Homo sapiens: one gene and its partners. The protein of the gene in region 2 purifies or fractionates together with the protein of the main gene of each other region. This does not show direct contact. Each region holds a gene or a part of one and is shown on either strand. Other genes may lie near its edges.

What was found. Proteins that work in one complex are often made in the same cells at the same time.
Region 1: the proteins of ZNF550 (region 2) and ARK2N purify together in Homo sapiens (affinity purification with mass spectrometry; 2 studies listed by BioGRID and IntAct, with this or other methods). This does not show direct contact.
Region 3: the proteins of ZNF550 (region 2) and YTHDC2 purify together in Homo sapiens (co-immunoprecipitation; 3 studies listed by BioGRID and IntAct, with this or other methods). This does not show direct contact.

Annotation. Positions count from the first base shown.
Region 1 is NC_000018.10:46,169,160-46,177,041, reverse strand, and holds the start of ARK2N (protein ARK2N), read right to left. Parts: upstream 3,009-7,882; 5' UTR 2,712-3,008; intron 1-2,711. UniProt on the Homo sapiens protein: AMPK substrate important for exercise capacity and skeletal muscle function.
Region 2 is NC_000019.10:57,556,844-57,564,700, forward strand, and holds the start of ZNF550 (zinc finger protein 550), read right to left. Parts: upstream 3,021-7,857; 5' UTR 2,840-3,020; coding exon 2,813-2,839; intron 1-2,812. UniProt on the Homo sapiens protein: May be involved in transcriptional regulation.
Region 3 is NC_000005.10:113,551,680-113,558,701, reverse strand, and holds part of YTHDC2 (3'-5' RNA helicase YTHDC2), read right to left. Parts: intron 5,522-7,022; coding exon 5,343-5,521; intron 5,113-5,342; coding exon 5,016-5,112; intron 4,936-5,015; coding exon 4,848-4,935; intron 4,761-4,847; coding exon 4,680-4,760; exon of another isoform or gene 4,670-4,679; intron 2,651-4,669; coding exon 2,568-2,650; intron 1-2,567. UniProt on the Homo sapiens protein: 3'-5' RNA helicase that plays a key role in the male and female germline by promoting transition from mitotic to meiotic divisions in stem cells.

The DNA of each region.
Region 1 (7,882 bases), on a different chromosome or scaffold from region 2:
CAGTTGCTCACAACTCTAATCCCAACACTTTGGGAGGCCAAGGCAGGAGGACTGCCTGAGCCCAAGAGTTCAAGACAAGTCTGGGCAACATAGGGAGACTCCATCTCTACAAAAAATTTAAAAATTAGCCAGCCGTGGTGGCTCACACCTGTAATCCCAGCACTCTGGGAGCCGAGGCAGGCAGATTGCCTGAGGTCAGGAGTTCGAGACCAGCCTGACCAACACAGAGAAAACCCGTCTCTACTAAAAATACAAAATTAGCCAGGCGTGGTGGCACATGCCTGTAATCCCAGCTAATTGGTAGGCTGAGGCAAGAGAATCGCTTGAACCCAGGAGGTGGAGGTTGCGGTGAGTGGAGATTGCACTCCAGCCTGGGCAACAAGAGCAAAACTCCATCTCAAAAAAAAAAAAAATTAAAAATTAGCTGAGTGTGGTGGCGTGAGCCTGTGGTCTCAGCTACTTCGGAGGCTGAGGTGGGAGGAATGCTTGAGCTCGGGAGGTTGAGGCTGCAGTGAGCTGTGATCATGCCACTGCACTCCAGCCTGGGTGACAGAGCAAGAGTGTCTTTAAAAAAAAAAAAAAAAGCACACACACACACATTTTTCACCTTTACAGGTTTTTCTCAAGTACTGTCTATTCAGTAAACATGAATACATGCTATTTCCATATCCTCAGTTATGTGCAGGAAAATGAGGAAGATCTAAGATGATTTACCAAAGGTTTGGGTCTCTAGTGTACATGAATTCCAAACTTTAGAAAGAAGAATACTGAAATTGCCTATTTATCAAGTCTGTTCATGCACGTGTCAAAAAAAGCTGTAAGATTGGGAATCCCAACAAAACAACTTCTTGTATAATGAGTAACTACAGAAGCGCACAGAATTTACTAGTCACACAATAAAGAGACTGAAAGTACCAATATCACTATTAATATTAGAAGCAAGAAACCTTTGAAGGACACGCATTAGCCCTCAGTTCTAATGGAACTGCATTAAATTAGAACCTAAAGCTGAATTTATCTTTACTATATGGGTTTTGAATTAATCATAACCATAAAACAAAGAGTATTATGACAGTTACTCTCACATAAATGCATGTTAAATATAAAGTGAATAAGTAACAACTACACGGTGAACTTATTCTAACAATGGAGAAAGTTTCCAGCTCCAATATCCAGTCCATCCTATTTTCCACAAAAAGTTGTCAGAAAAAATTTTTTTTCCCATTAAGAAATCTGATTCAGTCCAGGCGCCACGGCTCACGCCTGTAATCCCAGCACTTTGGGAAGCCAAGGCGGGCAGATCACGAGGTCAGGAGGTCAAGACCAGCTTGGCCAACGTGGTAAAACCCCGTCTCTACTAAAAATACAAAAATTAGCTGGGCGTGGTGGCGCGTGCCCGTAATCCCAGCTACTCGGGAGGCTGAGGCAGGATAACTGCTTGAACCATGTGTTTTTTTTTTTTTTGTCCTGAGACTCCTCAGGACATCAGGCAGTAACTATCAATTGTAGGCCTCTAAAAATGCTTGTTAAACCAAAAGGCAATGCTCTGATTACTGGAGGAATCTAGATTGCCAAGATCAGCAAAACTACATTAGAAAGTTAATAGCTTCCATCCTTAAAATATCCCAAGAGAAGAAAGGGAGTGATTCTGTTAGCATGTACCCAATACTACACAATAAAAGCCTAAGCAAAATTGGCAGATGTTTTTGTAATTAAGAGGTCCAACCTTGACGAAGTATCATCAGTAGGATTTTAATTCTACTGGGTAAGAGGATTCAGAAAGCAAAAGGTCAGGCAAAAAACGAAAAACCCATCCAAACAGAAACTGCTCAAGGATCTGGTAGGGCTCGTACCGATGTTCTCTACTTCAACCTGTGAGCATCAATTTTGTGATGGGGGCTGCCGGGGACGGGGGTCGGGGCGGGGGGGTGGACAATTTTAAAGTGAGAATGAATGGCTTGCGTAAAGGCGATAGTCTTTAACACGGGTTCGTCAGTGTACATCCTCGCCGGTTTTGAAATAAAGTTGACAAACTCCCCAGAAGCGGTCTATTTTGGAGACTGACACATCTCTCGCATTGACTGGAGGCGCCTGCCGACCGAAGGTAGTGGAAGCGCCGAGAGGCAGGCGGCGCCAAGCCTATAAGAAAGCCTTTTCTCCCTCCACCAAGGCCACTGCGGCCGCGGCGCCGGAGCTCTCCGCTGCAGGGGCAGGTGTCGGCGCCAGACCCCCTACTCTCGGAGCTGGCGGAGTTGCCGCCACTGCTTCCCCCGCGGGCCTAGGAGCCGGAAAGTTGCGTGAAGACAACTCCAGGGCCGTGAAGTCGCTTCCCCCCGCAGCCCGGGGACTGCGGCACCTCCAGCCTCCCCTCAGCACCCCCGGAAAAGGACTCGCCTCAACCCGGCCCCAGCGTCTGGGGGCTTGGAGTGCCGGAGCCAACTCCGCCGGGCCGGGAGGACGCTAGGGTCACCAACGGCGGACGAGCAAGGAGGTCGGAGAGGTGCGATGCCCCAGCGTCAGCCGGCAATCCAGGCTGCGAGTTCCCGGCGCCCACCAGCCAGGCCCGCTAGGACCCCAGCGTCCGGACGCCGCAGAGCCCTCACCGCGGCCCGCAGCCCTCCGATTCGCCCCGACCCCTCCCTGGGACGCAACCCGGGCCCCCCAACTCGACCAGTAGCCAGGCCGCGGCCCTGCGCCCCTTCCCGCCTCACCTGCGCTCCGCGGCGACTCCGTGCCTTCTCGCTCGCTTCGCGCGCGCCCCGTCGGGGCACGCACCGAACCCCCGGCCGGGACTCTTCCCCGCTGCGGTGACTCAGGACGCGACGGCCACCGCCGCCTTCTCCTCCTCGGAACAAGCCCCGGCAGCGAGCAGTGGGTCGCGGTCAGAGCCCCTGCCGGGACCAAAGTGAACCTCGCCGCCTCCGCAGCCTCTACCACCAAGTCCCTTCAGTCGTCCGCGCCGCCCCCAAGAAAATGTCACCAGAGGCCGTTCCGCTGGGCGCCTCACTTCCGCCCGGAAACACAGAGCCCGCGTCGGCCGGCTAGAGAGGCAGCTGCGCCGGAGACCTCTGGAGACTGGCGCCCGAGGCCCGAGAAAAGCCAGACAGCGCCATCTGGCGCGATGGAACCCGCGCTCCTCCCGCTGCAGACCGCGGGGCGTGAAGGCGCCGGCTCCCCGGGCTTCTTTCCCGCGCTCCCTCCTTCTGTTGAGACCGTCACCTTCCCGAAATGTCTTTCCCGGGGGGTGGGAAAGCCACTCAATGCAAGCCAAGGACAATGCCTTCAGCAAAGGACAGCGCTCCCTTTTCTGTGCGCTGCTCAGTACTCACCCCCTCCTGAAGCCCTTCCGAAAGCAGCTTGCGGTGTCTGAATCCCAGAGTCGCTCCAGCGGAGAGCCCGTGCCCTTCTCTCCCCGCTTTTTCGCGGATGCCGATAGCTGGGCTCGGGGAGACTCGGCTGAGCTCTTCTCGGGCAGCGGCACCAATATCTGCTCAAGTTTCTGTCCGGGCACCTTGCAGGCCTTGCAGATCGACCGCCACCTGCTGGTGGGACGTGGCCCGCTGGGGAGACCCCGCTCTGCCCCGAATTCCGCCTCTGCAGTCGCCCTCCGATTTGCAGTCAGCCCTGGGGAGGGTGGGGGAAACGAGGTGGACCCGAACCCCGAAGAAGGGGAGGAGGGCGCAGGCCCACTGGCGGGTGGAGCGTTTCCCAAGGAGGAGCAGGAGATGCTGAAGACATATCTCAAGACTCAAGATCTGGCCAAGGACCCGCGCTCCCCCAAAGCAAAGCAGTGTTTTGAGAAGAAAAATAATAATAATAAAGCTTTGAGGAGGAAAATGTAAACGGTCTTTACCTTTACAGAGCTGTGCTGGAACCTCGGATGAGACCCGTCAAGAGGAGATTCTGAAAATCTCACACCACTGGGTCCGCACTCCCCTAAATATCAGTCTCCCCCTTCAGACCAGGCCCCTTAGTTCCCCCACTTCACTCATTTTTTCTGACTGCCTACAGGAGTGCGAGTTTTTCATCCCCAACTACAAGAATAAATTAAGAAAAGAAAATAATTTTATTATACCAGGCACCTTGCATTTAAATGGGTTAAATCCACTGAATCCTCATTACAACTCATAACAACCCTATGAGTTGGATGGCGTTACTAGTCCCAAATTGCAAAGGTGGAAACTGAGGGACAGAGTGACCTGCCCAAGATGACACATCCAAGTAAGTGGCAGTGTTGGATTCCAACACAGGCAGAGCTTACTTTCTTAACCACAGCCACCAACTGCCTCACTGAGAATCACAGAGAACGTAGTGTGTGCTAGCTAAGTAGTTTATCCGTGTATGTTATTTCACTCGTTCATTCATTTATTTACTTTCTGCTACCTGAGTCCTCAAGGGATTTGAGAGGTTATGGGGTAGTGACAAGAGCCCAGCCTATTTCAGGAAAAAAAGAAAAGAAAAGGAAAAATCACACTAAGATCACAACTTTCAGTCTGGAAATGAATGAATGTGGACTAATACATTGAGTTTTTAAAAGATTCCTTGACAGTCTGATCTAATCAATGCTGCAGAAATACTGAAGTAGGACCCTGACTACTGAGATACCATCTTGGGTCCTTCTCCTGTTTTTTGTTTTTTGTTTTTTGCTTTGTGGTTGTTGTTTCTTTGTTTTTTGTTTGGTTGGTTGGTTTTGGTTTTTTGGTTTTTTTCTTGAGACAGAGTCTTGCTCTGTCGCCCAGGCTGGAGTTCAGTGGCGCGATCTTGACTCACTGCAATCTCTGCCCCCCGAGTTCAAGCGATTCTCCTGCCTCAGCCTCCCGAGTAGCTGGGATTACAGGTGCACGCCACCACACCCAGCTAATTTTTTGGTTTTTTAGTAGAGACGGGGTTTCACCATGTTGGCCAGGCTAGTCTCAAACTCCTGACCTCAGGTTATCCACCCACCTCAGCCTCCCAAAGTGCTGGGATTACAGGTGTAAGCCAGCGCACCCAGCCCCTTCTCCTGTTTAATACCAATAAGTCAATTTCCTACGTCGAATGGCCTTTGTATATTTTTGGAGGCTAGGGCATTTGATATCCTAATTACTAATATTTTTATTACTACTATATTTCCATTATTAAATGGTACAGTTACTTGCTTCTTCCCCTTCTTCTGTAGGAGCAGAAGGGATCCTACTTCTGCCTCAAAGTCTTCTGTGTATCCAATACTTAGCTCTACAAGCTCCTGAAATGCCATCTCTCCCATAAAACCAGCTCAGCCCAGACACAACCCCCGTCACCACTACCCTTATTACCCCCTCCATCCTGGCCTTCCACTGTGGGTCAGGACTCCCCTGCTCACACACACTCTCCTACAAACATGTCTGCCCTTGGTCTATCTGTAGGGTTACTACTAAACCATATTCGTCATCCTCTCAACTTCTGTCATAGCCCTAGAGGCCAGAGCCAAGCCTGTCAGAATCACTCTTCACCATCATTTTTTGCACCTGATATACCGCCTAGCCTGGGGCTAAGCCTGCAGCAGGTACCTGCCAGCTGTGGTGGCCTGGACAGTAGCATCAGGGCGTGGCTGGTCTGGCTTTGACTGTAACCTGATCTCTCCTGACTGAGCAGGTTACTTCTACCATTTGCCCTGTAAAATGGACACAATTATGAGAACCACTCTAGAGATGATGAAAGTAGGGGGAGACGAGGGGAGGGAACCCTCATTTCTGGGCTCTGGGCTGCCCCCTCCCTTCCATCTCAGATTGCTAAGAATTGGGCAACCTAAGGCCAGGCGTGGTGGCTCACGCCTGTAATCCTAGCACACTGGGAGGCCAAGGTGGGCGGATCACCTGAGGTCGGGAGTTCAAGACCAGCCTGGCCAACATGGTGAAACTCCATCTCTACTAAAAAAAAAAAATACAGGCCGGGCACGGTGGCTCACGCCTATAATCCCAGCACTTTGGGAGGTTGAGGCGGGCAGATCACCTGAGGTCAGGAATTCAAGACCAACCTGGGCCGGGCGCGGTGGCTCACGCCTGTAATCCCAGCACTTTGGGAGGCCGAGGCGGGTGGATCATGAGGTCAGGAGATCGAGACCATCCTGGCTAACAAGGTGAAACCCCGTCTCTACTAAAAATACAAAAAATTAGCCGGGCACGGTGGCGGGCGCCTGTAGTCCCAGCTACTCGGGAGGCTGAGGCAGGAGAATGGCGTGAACCCGGGAGGCAGAGCTTGCAGTGAGCCGAGATTGCGCCACTGCAGTCCGCAGTCCGGCCTGGGCGACAGAGCGAGACTCCGTCTCAAAAAAAAAAAAAAAAAAAAAAAAAAAAAAAGACCAACCTGGCCAACATGGTGAAACCCCGTCTCTACTAAAAATACAAAAAATTAGCCAGGTGTGGTGGTGCACACCTGTAATCCCAGCTACTCCGGAAGCTGAGACAGGAGAATCACTTGAACCCTGGAGATGGAGGTTGCAGTGAGCCAAGACTGTGCCACTGCACTCTAGCCTGGGTGGCAGAGCGAGACTCTGTCTCAAAAAAAAAAAAAAAAAAAAAGAAAAGGCTGGGCACTGTGGCTCATGCCTGTAATCCCAGCACTTTGGGAAGCCGAGGCGGGCGGGTCATGAGGTCAGGAGTTTGAGACCAGCCTGGCCAACGTGGTGAAACCCCGTCTCTACTAAAAATACAAAAACAAATTATCCAGGCATGGTGGCAGGCACCTGTAGTCCCAGCTACTCAGGAGGCTGAGGCAGAAGAATCACTTGAACCCAGGAGGCGGAGCTTGCAGTGAGCCCAGATCACGCCACTGAACTCCAGCCTGGGCGTCAGAGCGAGACTCTGTCTCAAAAAAAAAATTAGCCGGGTGTTGTGGTGCACTCCTGTAGTCCCAGCTACTCGGGAGGCTGAAGCAGGAGAATCGCTTGAACCTGGGAGGCGGAGGTTGCAGTGAGCTGAAATTGTGCCACTGCACTCCAGCGAGACTCCGACTCAAAAAGAAGAAGGGGCAACCTGGCCTCCCTCAACGTAACCACCCACCCCCACCATAGCCAGCACCCACTAGGATCGCCCAGGACCTGCTAGAAGGCAGTGGCCTCTGGGGAAATGCTGACCTTCTGCACAATAGTAGCCACAGAACCTCAGACAAGTCACCGCTTCCAGGGTTAACATGACTCGCTCTGCCTCACAGCGTCATTCCATAGGATTAAATGGCCTCCTCCAACACAAGGACATCCAGAAGCATTCTAAGGACTCTGAGTAGTGGAAGATCAGACAGTTGTCAGGACCAGGGGCTCTGGGGTTTGACAGATGTGACATTGGACTGAGTTCCACCTCTCTAGCAGAGTGACCCTCAGGCAGTTATGTAACCTCACTGAGCCCCATTGTCCTCGCCTGCCAGACATGGATGACCCCCCAGTACTCCCTTGCAGGCTCTGGAGGAGTGAGGGTAGAATGACTCATGATTTCAGCTCTCAGCTCCATGCTCGGCTCAGACAGAATGCTCTAGAAAGAGGCTGCCGCTCTGATGGCAGCACTCCAGGCCAGCACCTTCTAGGCCACAGACTCTCAGTGGTCAAATACAGTGAAATTTCCATCTCAACAGACTCATTTTTCCAGAGCAGCAGGTTCACGTGGAACCAGAATGGAACAGTGCAGAAGGATACCATGAAAGTGTAGCCAAGGGTGACTGGGAGGGGGCCCCCTTTCCCCCACAAACCTCTAGCTCCCCACCCTGGTTCTCTGGGCTGGCCAATTAAGACTGGTCTGTCTTGGGTAAAGTACTCTGAAACTCAGCTCCAAGTCTCTCTTTCTAACCAGGTGATTCCCCTGAAACTCCATCTATTTAGAAAGTCTGTAAGTTCTGAAAATGGGGGAAAAAAAGTGAAAATAAATGCAAAGGA
Region 2 (7,857 bases):
ACCCTGTGCTCACAGAAACATGTGCTGTATTGACTCAAGGTTTAATGGAGTTAGGGCTGTGCAGGATGTGCCTTGGTAAACATGTGTTTGCAGGCAGTATGCTTGGTAAAAGTCATCGCCATTCTCCCGTCTCGGGTACCCAGGGACACAATGCACTGCGGAAGGCCACAGGGACCTCTGCCCGAGAAAGCCTGGGTATTGTCCAAGGTTTCCCCCCACTGAGACAGCCTGAGATGTGGCCTCGTGGGAAGGGAAAGACCTTACCTTCCCTCAGCCCGACACCCATAAAGGGTCTGTGCTGACGAGGATTCATGAAAGAGGAAGGCCTCTTTGCAGTTGAGATAAGAGGAAGGCATCTGTCTCCTGCTTGTCCCTGGGAATGGAATGTCTTGGTGTAAAACCCGAGCGTACATTCTATTTACTGAGATAGGAGAAAGCCGCCTTATGGCTGGAGGTAAGACATGCTGGCGGCAATACTGCTCTTTACTGCACTGAGATGTTTGGGTAAAGTCAAACATAAATCTGGCCTACGTGCACATCGAGGCACAGCACCTTTCCTTAAACTTATTTATGACACAGAGTCCTTTGCTCACATGTTTTCCTGCTGACCCTCTCCCCACTCATTACCCTATAGTCCTGCCACATCCCCCTCATGGAGATGGTAGAGATAGTGATCAATAAATACTGAGAGAACTCAGAGACTGGTGCTGGTGTGGGTCCTCCATATGCTGAGTGCCAGTCCCCTGGGCCCACTTTTCTTCCTCTATACTTTGTCTCTGTGTCTTATTTCTTTTCTCAGTCTCTCATCTCCACCTTGCAAGAAATACCCACAGGTGTAGAGGGGCAGGCACCCTTCACTAAGTCCTCTGGTCCTCACTGTGTCCCTGCCAGGCTAAGGCTTCCTTAGCCGTGGTAAAGCAAATAAAGGCCTGACTTAAATCAGGCCTCCTGAATCTGACACTTGCCAGCTATGTGACTATGACGATGTCACATGATCTCTCTAAGGCTCGATTTCCGAATCAACACAATAACTATTCCCATCTCAGCAGGCAGCTCTAAGAACTAAACAGAAAATGTTCACTTAGGCAATCAGTGGAGTGCCTAGCACATGTAAGTGCCTGATGTGTTTGGGAACTTTATTAATCCCCTGACAGGCCCAGAGGTAAATGTCGTTATCACTTCCATTTCACAGTCAGCAAAGGCTCAGGGAGCTTTAGAAATCAGGCACAGCCTCACATTTAAAAAGCAAAAGCAGCATTTGAGCACCGCTAAAACACCTCACCAAGCTGCCAGAGAGCAGGCAGGTGGGAGTGAGGGGTGCTTTTAGCTACAGCCAGCACTGCCAGGATGGGTGTGGAACTGCAGCCCCGCAGAGACCTGAGAACAATGTCTCAGACAAAGGGAAGTGCAAGGGCAAAGGCTGAAAATGGGAAAGAGCTTGGCAAGCTCAGGATTCCCTGGATGAATGCAGTGAGAAAGGGGACAATGGAAGAGGAGAAAGAAGATGCGGTCAAAAGGGCAAACCAAGTACAGCCTTGCAGACCATGCTGGTAGGAGGGGGTGGATTTATTGGAAATGTGATGAGAGTCCCTATAAGAGAGGCCTATTCAATCATCAACCATTTATTAAGTACAATAAATGTACTTAAGCCTGGCTGTTCTGGGTCTTGGGAGAGGGAAGCAACAGGCACTCACATTCCAGGGTTGGAAAAAGATCCTAAACAGGCAACTAAATAAATGAGTAAGGCAATGTCAGATGGCCTTAAAGATTCAGATGACAAGAAAACAGAGCAAGGAGACCAAAGAGACTCTGGTCAGCTTTAAACGGTGCAACAGACGAGACCTCTTTAAGCAGCGGACACCAGAGGGAGTCAGAAATAAAGCAAAGGAGGGAGAGGTGGATGAGAAATTAACAACTACGACAGGAGCTGACAGTAATCTGGGCTATCATGAAAGTAATCAGAGTGACTGCTAGAGAGTAACCCTGGGCCTCATGTGTTATCTCCAAAGGGACACTACATCCTGCATACCATCGCCACTGAACATTTTAATGGACTCGTTTTTCACCTGTAACTAAATGTCTTAAACAGGAAAATATACTGTTAGTTGCAACCCAGCGTCCCTTGCCCTAAACTGAAAGACAAATTCCTCAGCCTGCCCTACCACCTTTTCTGCCCTGGCATAGCAGCAACCGCAGAAACGCTCCTCCCACCTCTTTCAGCCGCTGCCCTTCGTGTTGTAGAGACAGGAGGCCAAGGAGGCCAGAGGGTCAGACTCCTGCTGGGGTTGAGTCTCCAAACCTAGCACAGGCCCAGGGAGCAGCTCCGGAAACAACATCCTGAGCGACGTCCCCGGACCGTGCTGTGCACTGAGACGGACACACACACATCACCCAGGGAGCCGTTCAAGCTTCCTCAACCCCGGGGGGGGGAAGAGTAAATATTTCTACTTTGCGCGCGCAAAAATGAAGGACGAGGACAGTAACGGGACTTGTTCAAGGTCGCAGGCCCGAGAAAGGACATGGTTGGAAGAGCCACGAGGAGGACTGCGGTCGCTCCTCTCACCTGTGAGGGGTTCCGGGACCCTAAAAGCCCTATTTCATACCACAACGCCGCGCACCCCAGAAACGGGGACGCTCCCCACGCCACCGCGGGCCTGCATTCCGGACCCGGGACCGCGCGACCCCCTTCTAGGCCTCTAAGAAGCAACGGCAGGGACTGCACTGAGGACGACCCTGAAACGCCGTCCTTCCGCTCGTCGGGCCCGGGACACTGAGGCCGGGTGGCCGCGGGGAGCCGAGCCAGTCTGCTCACCTGCGCTGCGTCCTTCGTCTCCGCCATCCGACCGTTGGCAGGACGAGGCCGCGTGGGGCAGCTCCCACGGGCTCAAAACCCTACCCCGGGTCCTACAACGGTGCGGAGGTGAGCCCCAGTCGCCCTACCATCCTTCCCAGCACAGTTCTGAGAGCGCGGACCAACACGCCCCACCACAAACGTCCACGCCAGCGAGGCCGGAAGTCCCGCCCCTGTGTCGCGGTCGCCTGCCACGCCTTTTCCTGCGCCGGCCCACTGCCTTCTAGGTAATGTAGTCTTGTCCCGTAAGAGGCCAGGCTTGGCTCTTTTTCCTTTTTTATTATGCACACCATGTTTCTGTATATCTCAGATGATCTTAGCGGAGCAAGTGTACACACTGGATTGTAAATTTTTAAAACTTCCTATTATTCGGATGCCTCAACGTCCCTACAAGCAGGCTGTGAGCACTCGCCCAGGCACCCAGGTAAACGAGTTTGATAAAGGGGGCCCTGCCACGAGGTTCCCCGCTTGCCTCCTCTGAGTGACCCAGTGACATTCCCATGTACCAGTAAAATCTTACGCCTGGTTACTGCGTCCTCCTCCACCCTGACGCCAGGCACTGTCCCTGGGACTGGCGTGGATCTGGACCCCCGCTTCCCGCGTGGAGCCATTCCCGGGACATGCTCGTGGGGTTCCGTCTGTGGGACGTCTGCCTCCTCTGTGTGGACTGGTGTTGCCCAGGGCTCAGGAAGGTCTCCAGGGGCCGTGAGTCCCCGCCCGCTTCCGGAGTCCAGCTTCGTGACACCATCGTGAGAAAGAATGCAGGGATGAGTCAAAATGAAGCCAAAGGCAAGAAGCTTTTATTGGGAAGAAAAAGTACACATTTTTGAGAAGAGTGTACTTTTCCCAAGAGAAGAGGGAAATGCGGACGTACGAGGGAGAGCGGGTCATGCACAATGGAGTTTGGGTTTCTAATTTTATGGGCTCTTCTAATTAGGGGGTGGGATAATCATGAGGTTTTTCTAGGAAAAGGTGGGAATTTCTTAGAATTGGGGTGCCAACCATTTTTATACTAAATGTGGGCGTGCTTGGATTGGCCTGGCACTGGTGGGTGTGTGATTTAATGTGGCAATGAGTGTATAATTAGGTCTGGGGTAGGAAATGGGTCAAATCTAGCGTCATGGGACAGCCTAGCCCCAATCCTGTTTGTTAAGGTCTCATCAGCCCAGTCTTCTTGTTGGAGTAGCTAATTTTAACAGCTTGATGTTTTCCCCCTTCTCCTGTGACCACACAGCATTCCTATTTTGTGGGTGTTTCTTTAATTAGAGAGTGGAATAATTATTAGGTATTCTGGAAAAGGAGGGAAATTCAGGGACCCACCTGGTTACTGCCCCCTTTCTCTCTTATTTGGCTTTGCCCAGAAGAGTCATGGACATGTCATCCTGACTGGGATTTTGGCCATTCTTTCTCTTATTTTGGGTTTTCTGTTATCCTATGGTTTCTTTGCCTAGTTCTTGTTTTTATTTGTTGTTCGAATTTTTCCATCCTCCTGCAACCACCCAGTGCTATTCCTATATCACTGTGAGTATAAACACCCTTTAACCTTATAGGCTTCTTGAAGTATAATTCCCAAGACCATGTTGCAGTGGTCCTTAAAGAACCAATAAGGCAGAGAGAAACAAACATGTTCCAAATTTTGTTCTCAGGAGTAAACCTTACTCAATTGTTAAAGGCTGTAGCTAGCTCAAAAGAAGTTTCCTTGACTCTGAAAAACAAAACAAGGATCAGCAATGTTCCAAGCAAAAGTCAAAAAGATTATTTCAGTTTTTCTATTAGTTCAGCCTATTCTGTTAACTCTTGTTCTGCTTGATATTTATAAACATTTTAGCTTTTCATGAGTCCTGTATGTTTTTCAGTTATCAGAAACCTGCATTTAGGAATACCTGTTAAAGTATTCCTACATCTGATTATGAACCATATTTTGAAGAGGATTAAAACAAGACAACAATTGTCTGTAAATGACAAAATGTCCAGGGTGGTTAGTCAAAAACATGATTGACAAAAAAAATTTGGTTATCTCCGTGGTTTACAATAACAACATAACAACCTTAATTGTGGTTGATAGTGTATACTTTCACATTAGAGTTTTCTAAATCCCATGCAGTTTTGGAACACATATTAATAGTATTTGCTGAAATATAACCTGAAGAAGATTAGACATCATTTTGGCAATCCCATGTAACAAAACATGTCAAATAATCCTGCTTGCCTCTTTTCTGGATGCCCCAGGGACCCTCTGTAGCATCCAAAACGTAGGTGTCAAGAAAGACAATTGATTTGTGGAAGCCTGTTAAATATGTTAACAGGCTTAAAATATTTGATGTTATGTACTAGAATTCCAGATTACTATAAGTTATTTATTTTGCCAAAATGATGACTCAAAAATTTGAAAAAGCAAAAACCTTTCATTAGCCTTTACTATTACATGAAAATTGTGTTCAAGAGAGAGAAAGCCAAATTTCACCCTTACATTAGTGTACTATTAATGTCAACCACAATTTTTAATGAAACAATTATAGGCAATTCTATCCAATCTTAACCAGTTTGACAATGAGGTGAGATTTTCACAAACCTTTTATAACCCTTTACAAATTTTGCTAAAGAGTAGATTCATGCATTAAGAGTTCTTTGTTGTGCTTTTATTTCAATGCTCAATTTACAGAAAACCACATAATACCCTTTTGAATGTAGTCAATATATTCACACAGAGTTTCCTTTGCAAGATTAATTCTTACAATTTTTTCCCCAGTTTGCTTAAACCTTCAGTTGTATTTTATCTACTTTAAGACAATTCTTTATCCCTAGGCAAAACGTACATTGCCATGCCTTCTTATAATTTTTTACAAAAAACACATTTTACTGTTTTTACACACATTGCATGTAAATCTATTCAGTAGTCTCAATTACATGTCATAATGGTAACTCTTAGCAATTTTTTTTTTAAGATGGAATCTTGCTCTGTCACCCAAGCTGGAGTGCAGTAGCACAGTCTTGGTTCACCGCAACCACCACCTCCCAGGTTCAAGCGATTCTCCTGCCTCAGCCTCCCAAGTAGCTGGGACTACAGGCACATGCCACCATGCCAGGCTGATTTTTTGTATTTTTAGTAGAGATGGGGTTTCACCGCATTAGCCAGGATGGTCTCAATCTCCTGACCTCGTGATCTGTCCGCCTCAGCTTCCCAAAGTGCTAGGATTACATGTGTGAGCTACCACGCCTGGCCCTACCTCTTAGCAATTTTTAACTTTAGTGTAAAACCTGGTAAGTTGTTTTAATTATTTGCTGGGTGCAGATAAAGTTTAACTCCTTCCAGAATAAGTTAGGGGCTTGGTTACTTCCATATGTTCCCAGACTTTACCCATTGTGAAGCAGGCAAGTTGAACAGTTCTTAAAGGCCAAAGGAGCAGTACAACCTTAAAACATTTAGCAAACCTACCATCTGACCTGCATAATTTAGACCACATATTTACATCTTGAGTACATTTGTATTTTACCAATAATCCCTAAGACTGTTTTATTTTTAAAGATTAAAGTCACATGAACTAAGAGAAATTACAGTTTTTACTATTCTTTCAAAAAAGATTTGATCGGCCAGGCGCAGTGGCTCACACCTGTAATCCCAACACTTTGGGAGGCTGAGGTGGGTGGATCATAAGGTCAGGATATTGAGACCATCTTGGCCAACATGGTGAAACCCCATCTCTACTAAAATACAAAAAATTAGCCAGGCATGGTGGCACGTGCCTGTAATCCCAGCTACTTGGGAGGCTGAGGCAGAGCAATTGCTTAAACCTGGGAGGCGGAGGTTGCAGTGAGCCAAGATCGCACTACTGCACTCCAGCCTGGTGACAGAGCAAGACTCAGTCTGGGAAAAAAAGAATTTTATTTGATCTAAGTGCTTATAGGCCAATCAATTACAGCTCTTTTTTATAGACATCACACAACACATATATGACTACACAGACAGAAGAAGATCCAGCAGCTCAGGGTGGAGCCCTTTAAGAATAAGGCTACAAAAGCATGCAGTTTCTGGGGCCTAATAAACAGGCATAGCTCGAAGGCCAAAACAGATTTTGAGAGGGATTTATCCATCTCTAATTCTTGGGGTTCCATGAGGAAAACAGATTTCCCCCAAATTGAATCTGTGGCACCTTGTCTGTTTTCTCAAGGAGTCCAAGGCCACCAGAAGTCATCCTTGAGCCTTTCATGCATGCACCAAGATTGGCAAGACAGAGTGGAGAAAAGTAATTCAGTTGACTGAGATACAAACCTTTTCCAGAAAAACAAGATCTAAGAAGAGAAAAACATAAAGGCGTTTCAAGGACACCTATAACTTGGGTATCCACTTTTAATTAAGCTGAGTGCTCTTTCATAAAATTCTTCTTTACTAATTAAAACTTTACAGATAATATAAACAATGATCCTTATCTTTTTTTTTTTTTTACTGGTTTGCATCACTCTTTGTTCACAATCATGTTCAGGTTCTCCAGTTTACTTTTGGGGAAAGTGGCTGGATTCAGGCAAGGACAGGTTTTTAACTGGACTGTAGATCCCTCTAACAGCAAGCCCTGATATTTGAAGAGGCAATTGTCTGTTAGCCAGAGACTTCCCTTAGAGGATAGCAGTCCTGCTATATTATGTGGGGTCTAAACAGTTATTTTCCGGCTGGGTGCGGTGGCTCATGCCTGTAATCCCAGCACTTTGGGAGGCTGAGGTGGGTGGATCAAAAGGTCAAGAGATCAAGACTATCCTGGTCAACATAGTGAAACCCCATCTCTACTAAAAATACAAAAGTTAGCAGGGCATGGTGGTGCACACCTGTAGTGCCGGCTACTCAGGAGGCTGAGGCAGAAGAATTGCTTGAACCCAGGAGGCAGAGGTTGCAATGAGCCGAGATCACGCCATTGCACTCCAGCCTGGTGACAGAACGAGACTCTGTCTCAAACAAACAAAAAACAAACAAACAGTTATTTCCCATTATTAACTTGGTGGCCTCTGGCACGAGC
Region 3 (7,022 bases), on a different chromosome or scaffold from region 2:
TCTGCCCGCCTCAGCCTCCCAATCCACTTCGATTTTCTACAGGCAACTCAAACTCAAAATAACCAAAAATTAATTATTCTCTCCAGTGAAAACACTCTTCCAATTTTCCCTATCTGACTATGGCACTACTGTCCGATTTTTTAAGACAGAAACCTGGATGACATCCTTAACTCCACTCTCTTCCTTACCCCTCACCCCCTACATACACAATCAATCACCAACATTACTTTCTTTAGTATCTCTTGAATTAATTATCTATTTATTTTTATTTCCACCACCACTAAAACAATCCAGACTACTTTCATCTCTCCCTTATTATAGGAAAGTATTAATGAAGAAGCCTCCTACTGGGTCCTCCTACCATCATTTTTGTTCCTGCCAATCCATTCTTCAGAGAGCTGAAAGAATACTATACTCATGTCATCCCACTGTTTATTTTTTTAAAAAAGAGAGAAAACTCAAAATGGTCCTTAAAAACTTGTCCCCAACTTTCAGCTCATTTTTCACTATTCTCTAAACTAAATTCTATCCAAACATCCTCCCTATTCACTCTTGCCTTTAGGCAAATAAGTATACCTGGTTATACTTTCCCTCTGCCTTTTAGAAATGCCTCCCCCTTTATTCACAATTGTCTCAGATTCATTCTTAACAACTCTGGAAACATCCAGTTGTAGCACAAATAACACTGTATTAAAATTGCTTAATTTACTGGACTCCCACATGGACTGCAACATTTGCCCTACCTCCAGCTTTACCTATCAGGCTATGGTTTATTTATCACTATCCGTAACATGTGCACAGGGAAGACTTTTGATAAACATTTGTTGAAAAATGGCAATGAAAATTTTTGCAGTTCTGGCCTTCATCTCCAATAATATACTATTTGTTATTTTATTTTTTTTGAGACAGTGTCTGGCTCTGTCGCTCCGGCTGGAGTAGAGTGGTATGATCACAGCTCACGGCAGCTGCAGCCTCGACCTCCCAGGATCAGATGATCCTCCCACCTTAGCCTCCCAAGTAGCTAGGCCCACAGGCCTGTGCCACCACACCTAGCTGATTTTTTAATTTTTTGTAGAGACAAGGTCTCACTATGATGCCCAGGCTAGTCTCAGACTCTTAGACTCAAGTGATCCTTCCACCTCAGGCTCCCAAAGTGCTGGGATTACAAGCATAAGCCACTACACCCAGCCTTACCCACAATAATATACTATTAATAGCAGGGACATCCAGCTTAATGTATCAAGCCACTATTGGTCATAAGAAAACAACTGACATAACAACAACAAAGCCCTCATGGGCATTCTATGAAGTTACAAAGTAAAGAAATAATGCACATGAGTCTTCAGTATATGAGGCATTCTTTGAAAGTCAGCATTTCATGTTTTCCTGCTAATTATAATAAAATGCAAGATAAATATTTACTGAAAATGATACTTTTTAATGTTATCTTTTGAAAATTAAAAAGTAACCCAAACACTTAGTAAAATAACCAAATTACAAAAAAAATAAAATTGTCTCCTTACTCCAAGAACCCCACAAATCCTCCTTCTCAGAGTTAACAATCATTCATTGTTTTTTAATGTTTCTCCCAGACTTCTCGATGCATTTGTGTCAAAATACATACACAAACACACATATATTTTTCTTACCACAAAAGACTACTAGATGCATGTTCTGTATCCTTTCAATTAACAATGCATCCTGAAAACTCATTCCATATAAGAACACACAGATCTACATTTTTCCTTTTAACAGCTACCCAGAAAGCCACTGTGTGGCTATAATTTATTTAATCACTTCAGTATTGATGGACATCACACTGTTCCCAGACTTTACATTATTATAAACAATGCTTCAAAGAACAGTCTTAAACATACATCTTTGCACACGTGTGCAAGCATACTCAGGATAAATTATGACAAGTGGAATCTATGGTCAAAGAGTAGATTTGGATAAATAGTTTCAAATTGCACTCTGAAGAAGTCACACCAATCTATACTCCCATCAGTAAAATATGAAAGACTATTGGCCCATGTTTTTCCTCTATGTTGTACATACTGTTAAACATTTTCATCAATGCCCATCTGAGATTCAAAAAATAATACCTCATTAATTTGCATTTATTTAGATACATATTAGGTAGTATATGTGAGGTTAATGTATTAGTAGGACATGCATATTTTTTATTTTGGTAAATTGCCTATTTGTGCCCTTTATCCATTTTAACTGGATTATTGGCCTTTAGTTGATTTCAAAGAGCTTCTTTATATAATAAGGAAATTAGCTCTTTGTCCTACATTGCATATGTTTAGAATTTTTGGTTTTGTTTTTTAAGCTTCTTACATCTGAATGTACATTTAACTAGGCAAAAGTTTTTAATTTTAACATAACCTACATTCAACTTTTAAGGAAGTATCAAAATGGCTTGCTTTGCAAAAATAATATAAAAATTTTAACATGAAAACTACTATTTTATTGAACATGGAATATATGATAAATGTGTAATGCATATAAAAACGTTTCCATTTTACAGGCAATTGAATGAATATACATTAAATATACATTACCTGCCTTTCCGCTGTATGGCACTAGCTTTGGAAATCCATACCATTTTTAACATTGTAACAAAATTCAGAGCATCAAAGGATTTCTGTAATATTTAAACCATCTTTATGTTAGAATATAAAAGGTATTTAAAAGGTAATAGCAAGAATGTTATCAACATATTTTAACATGCCAAAAGTTTAATTCAAAGTCCTCTCTTGATTAAATAATTAAAACAGCAGTACTGATTTTTAATAAACCCTGATTTTCTGGTTACAAACATACTAAGAAAAAAGGATTTAAAAACTAAACTCAGAAGAGCGTAAAACTTCTCCATTCTGTGCTCTGCTGAGCTATTTGTTGCTCTCTGCCACAGCTGGATAATGGCAGCCAGTTCTCATAAGACATCAAGATTGGAGAGAACGGATCTATTCCCTTGAGGTCACTTTCCTATCAGATTTGCATCACTGTGCAGAATAAGAAGATCAAGGAAAGACATTTTCTGAAATACTTTTCAGGGACCTAACCTTGTGGAGTAAGAATAACAATCAATAATCTTATCCCAAAGAGAAATATTTTTAACCACTTCCACTTTACTTCCTGCTGAGCTACTAACAAAGTTAGCCTTTCCCGAACGTTACAATGAAGAAAGTAAAAAAGAACCATTGTTATCCACATACTTATTCAAATAACCTACAGTGAAAATTTATTGTAGAGAAATATTTTAAAGAAATACAAGCCTAACTAGAACATGTATTTCAGTCACTCGGTACTTATACTTTCCCTTTCATAAAATAACTGCATAGAGCAAATAAAAATGTTTGCATAATAGTTTATAAAATTTTTAGAAAACAGCTTATTTGGTTTTTAATATGACATTACATTTGTCAATTTTGTATGTTAAATAACTTTTGACACTACCCATGTTTTAAATTTCAGTTACTTAATAAATAAGTAACACCTAAAGGAACTTTCTAAAATATTCAAAACCCACTTTATCCACTTTAGGTAATTTTAGGGCAATAAAATCTGAATTTTCATTGGCTCACCATTAAGATTTTTAGTGATAATACTCATTAATGTACTATTATATAAAAATAAAATTTATCCCACCTTTATTCAATTATAAAGCATATGGCCAATTTTTATAATAAAATTTTATTTTCTATAAAATATTCCTTAAAATTACATTGAAAACATAAGGCAATTACTTTTTTCACATTAAAAACGATCATTTTTATCCACTAAATAGATATAATTTGCTTTCCACACATGAGTAATATGTCTTCCCTTGAAAAATCAATTATCTTTACCACTTTCATTTTTTCAGCGAATGTTATCTACCAAAAGTTAGGAACATGGACAACTGCTGGGCATTCCAGTACTAAAAGGAAATAAATGGCTTTTTTTTTTTTATAACAAAGGTTGGCTGTTTTTGAAAAGGACTTTCAAATAGTAAATATTTTAGGCTTTGAGAGGGTCTCTGTTACAAATACTCCAATCTGCCTTGCAGTATGAAGGCAGCAACCATAGAGAAAAGGTAAAAGTAGACTAGCTGAGTTCCAATGAAACTTTTTTTTTACAAAAGCAAGTGTTAAGTCCAATTTAGCTGCTGGTTATCCCATGGTTTATCTATTTCTTTGCTTTCTTTCAGCATGGTTCTCTTGAACTGAGTATCTTTTGAACACCTGCTATAGGTGAGGCACTAAAGATTTAACAGTGAACAAAGACATAATCCATGTGCATATGTAGAAGGAAAACATAAAAAATATGTAATCAAATTCCCATACTGTGTGACAACATTTTCACTATAACTAACCAAACCCTTTACTTTCTTCCTAGTATTTGGTGAGCAGAGCTACATTTTTGTATACTTTGTTAAAATAACAAAAATTGATTCTATATACTGAATTATTTAAGGCAGAATATTTAGTAAAATCAATATTTAGTATGTTAAATTTATCTAGAACCAGACATTTTTCGTAAATTCTGCTTATAAAAGCATGCGCTGGTCCAAGCTGTCTTGAGTAGAGGTAAAATTAAAAGAAAAACAACTAAATAATAAATAAAAGTATTTGTTGAAGTAGAACTTAATCTTCTTCATTTAAGTAAAACTACAACTTACCCATACATACCTCTTTCACCTTACCAGAATCAATAACAAAGACAACATCATTGACTGTGATGCTGGTTTCAGCAATATTGGTGGAAAGAATCTGCAACAAGATATTACTTTAAAGTTAATAAAAAAACAGAAAAAATAACTAATGAAAGTGTTAAAAAGAAGATTTTATGAAGCTTACTATTTTTCGAACACCTGCAGGTGGGTTTTTTAATACTTTCTTTTGATCGGATGTTTGCATATTTGAATGAAGCATAAAGACTTGGTATCTGCAGACAATTGAAAGAGAAAACATACTATAAGACCTGTCCGTTATTTTAAGCAACAGATATAAGGCTTTAGCCCTTACCTATGTGTACTGTCAGCAAACCGCTTGTCATCAAACAGGATGCGATCTCTCAGTCCAACAATTTCGTCATATCCAGGCAGAAAAATTAGTACTGCACCTTGGAGAAGAATGACTTTTTAATATTAAATCTCATTGTGAATCAGAGGCAATCAACAGAATTATAAAAATCTGTATCACATGTTTTCAAGTACTGGTAAACTATCATAAGATGACAGGAGATTATTCACTTACTACTATCAGTGCAATTATATAAAAATTTGTACACTTAAAATATTAATTCTTAAAGTATATATTTTGCTCCAGTTCTTTTAGACAACACGTATTTACCAGCATCACAACTATGGCAGATATTGTATAGAAGATGCATGATCAAATCCAAGTCTACTTTTTCATCATCGAAACTATGATGATAAGCTTTCAGGAGCTCTCTGTCTTCAGCACTGAGGTCACTTCCATTTGTTTGAACCAGAGAACTTTCATCTAGATTTCCAAATTCCAGTGTAGCACTGAAAAAAAAAAAAAAAAAAAAGACAAAGTCAATTTCCATTAACAAAAGTAATCCTTATGTCCTTCAAATTTCCAATATTCCCTAAGGAAGGTAAGGTAAGTGACACTTAATGTCCTAGCTATAATATGATTCATGTTTTGATTTCAAGCACATTATTCAAAGTAAAATTTGGCAATGAATGCTTTTAGAAAAGCACAATCTGAAGGCATTTCTCCAAAGTAAATATACAAATGGCCTATAAGCACATGAAAAGATGTTCAACATCATTAGCTATCAGGGAAATGCAAATCAAAACCACAATGAAATACCACTTCACACCAACTAGGATGACTACAATCAAAAAGACAGACAATAACAAGTGTTGGAGAGGGTGTGGAGAAATTTAAACCCTCATGCATTGCTGGTGGAAATGTAAAATGGTAAAGCTGCTTTGGAAAACAATGTGGCAGTTCTTCAAAAGGTTAAACATAGAGTTACCATATGCCCCAGCAATTCCACTCCTAGGTGTATATATAAGAGAAATGAAAAAAATATATCCACATAAAAATCTGTACACAAATATTCATACCAGTATTATTCATAGTCAGAAAGTGGAAACAACCTAAGTGTTCATCAATTGACAAATATACAAACAAACCTTGGTATATCCATAGAATATGTATTAGTCATAAAAATAGTGCTACAACATGGATATTTTATGCTAACTGAAAAAAGCCAATCACAAAAACCACATATCACATGATTTCATTTATATAAAATGTCCAAAATAGACAAATCTATAGAAACTGGAAGTAGATTAGTGGTTGGTCTAAAGCTGGAGGAGGCCTAGGAGAGTTGGGGCGGAATAGGGAGAGACACCTAATGGGTACAAGTTTCTTTTTGTGGTGATGAAACTGTTCTAAAATTGATTGTGGTGATGATTGCATAAGTCTGTGAACATATGAAAAACCATTGAATTGGTCACCTAAATGGGTGAATTATATGGTATATTAATTATATCTCAATAAAACTGTTAAAAACCACAAACTTTCAGCTATCATTTATATTTTCTTAATAGGTTGTATCTAATTGTTTACTACTATAAACAATATTCTGATGTATAGTTCACATTTTTAAAAAACTCAGTAGGTACCAACTTAACATGACTGTTAATTAGAAAATTCTATACTAAAAGCAAGTTGATTATGCTATTTTCCAAAAGCAAGAATCAACATAAATTACTGAAATAAATGCCTTGCTTCTTCATCTTATATGTAAAAATGTAAACTACTGCTATCACTAGCAATTATCAACAGAATTTCTAGGAAGTTCAAATAAATCCAATCTCTCTTAAAGAATTTAGCAGAAAAATAACGTAAGACTATTTTCAATGGGAAAAATATTAAACTTCTACAACTTAATAATTGGCTCTTGTAAATGTTTTATTATACTTTAAGTTCTGGGATACATGTGCACAACATGCAGGTTTGTTACATAGGTATACACGTGCCATGGTAGTT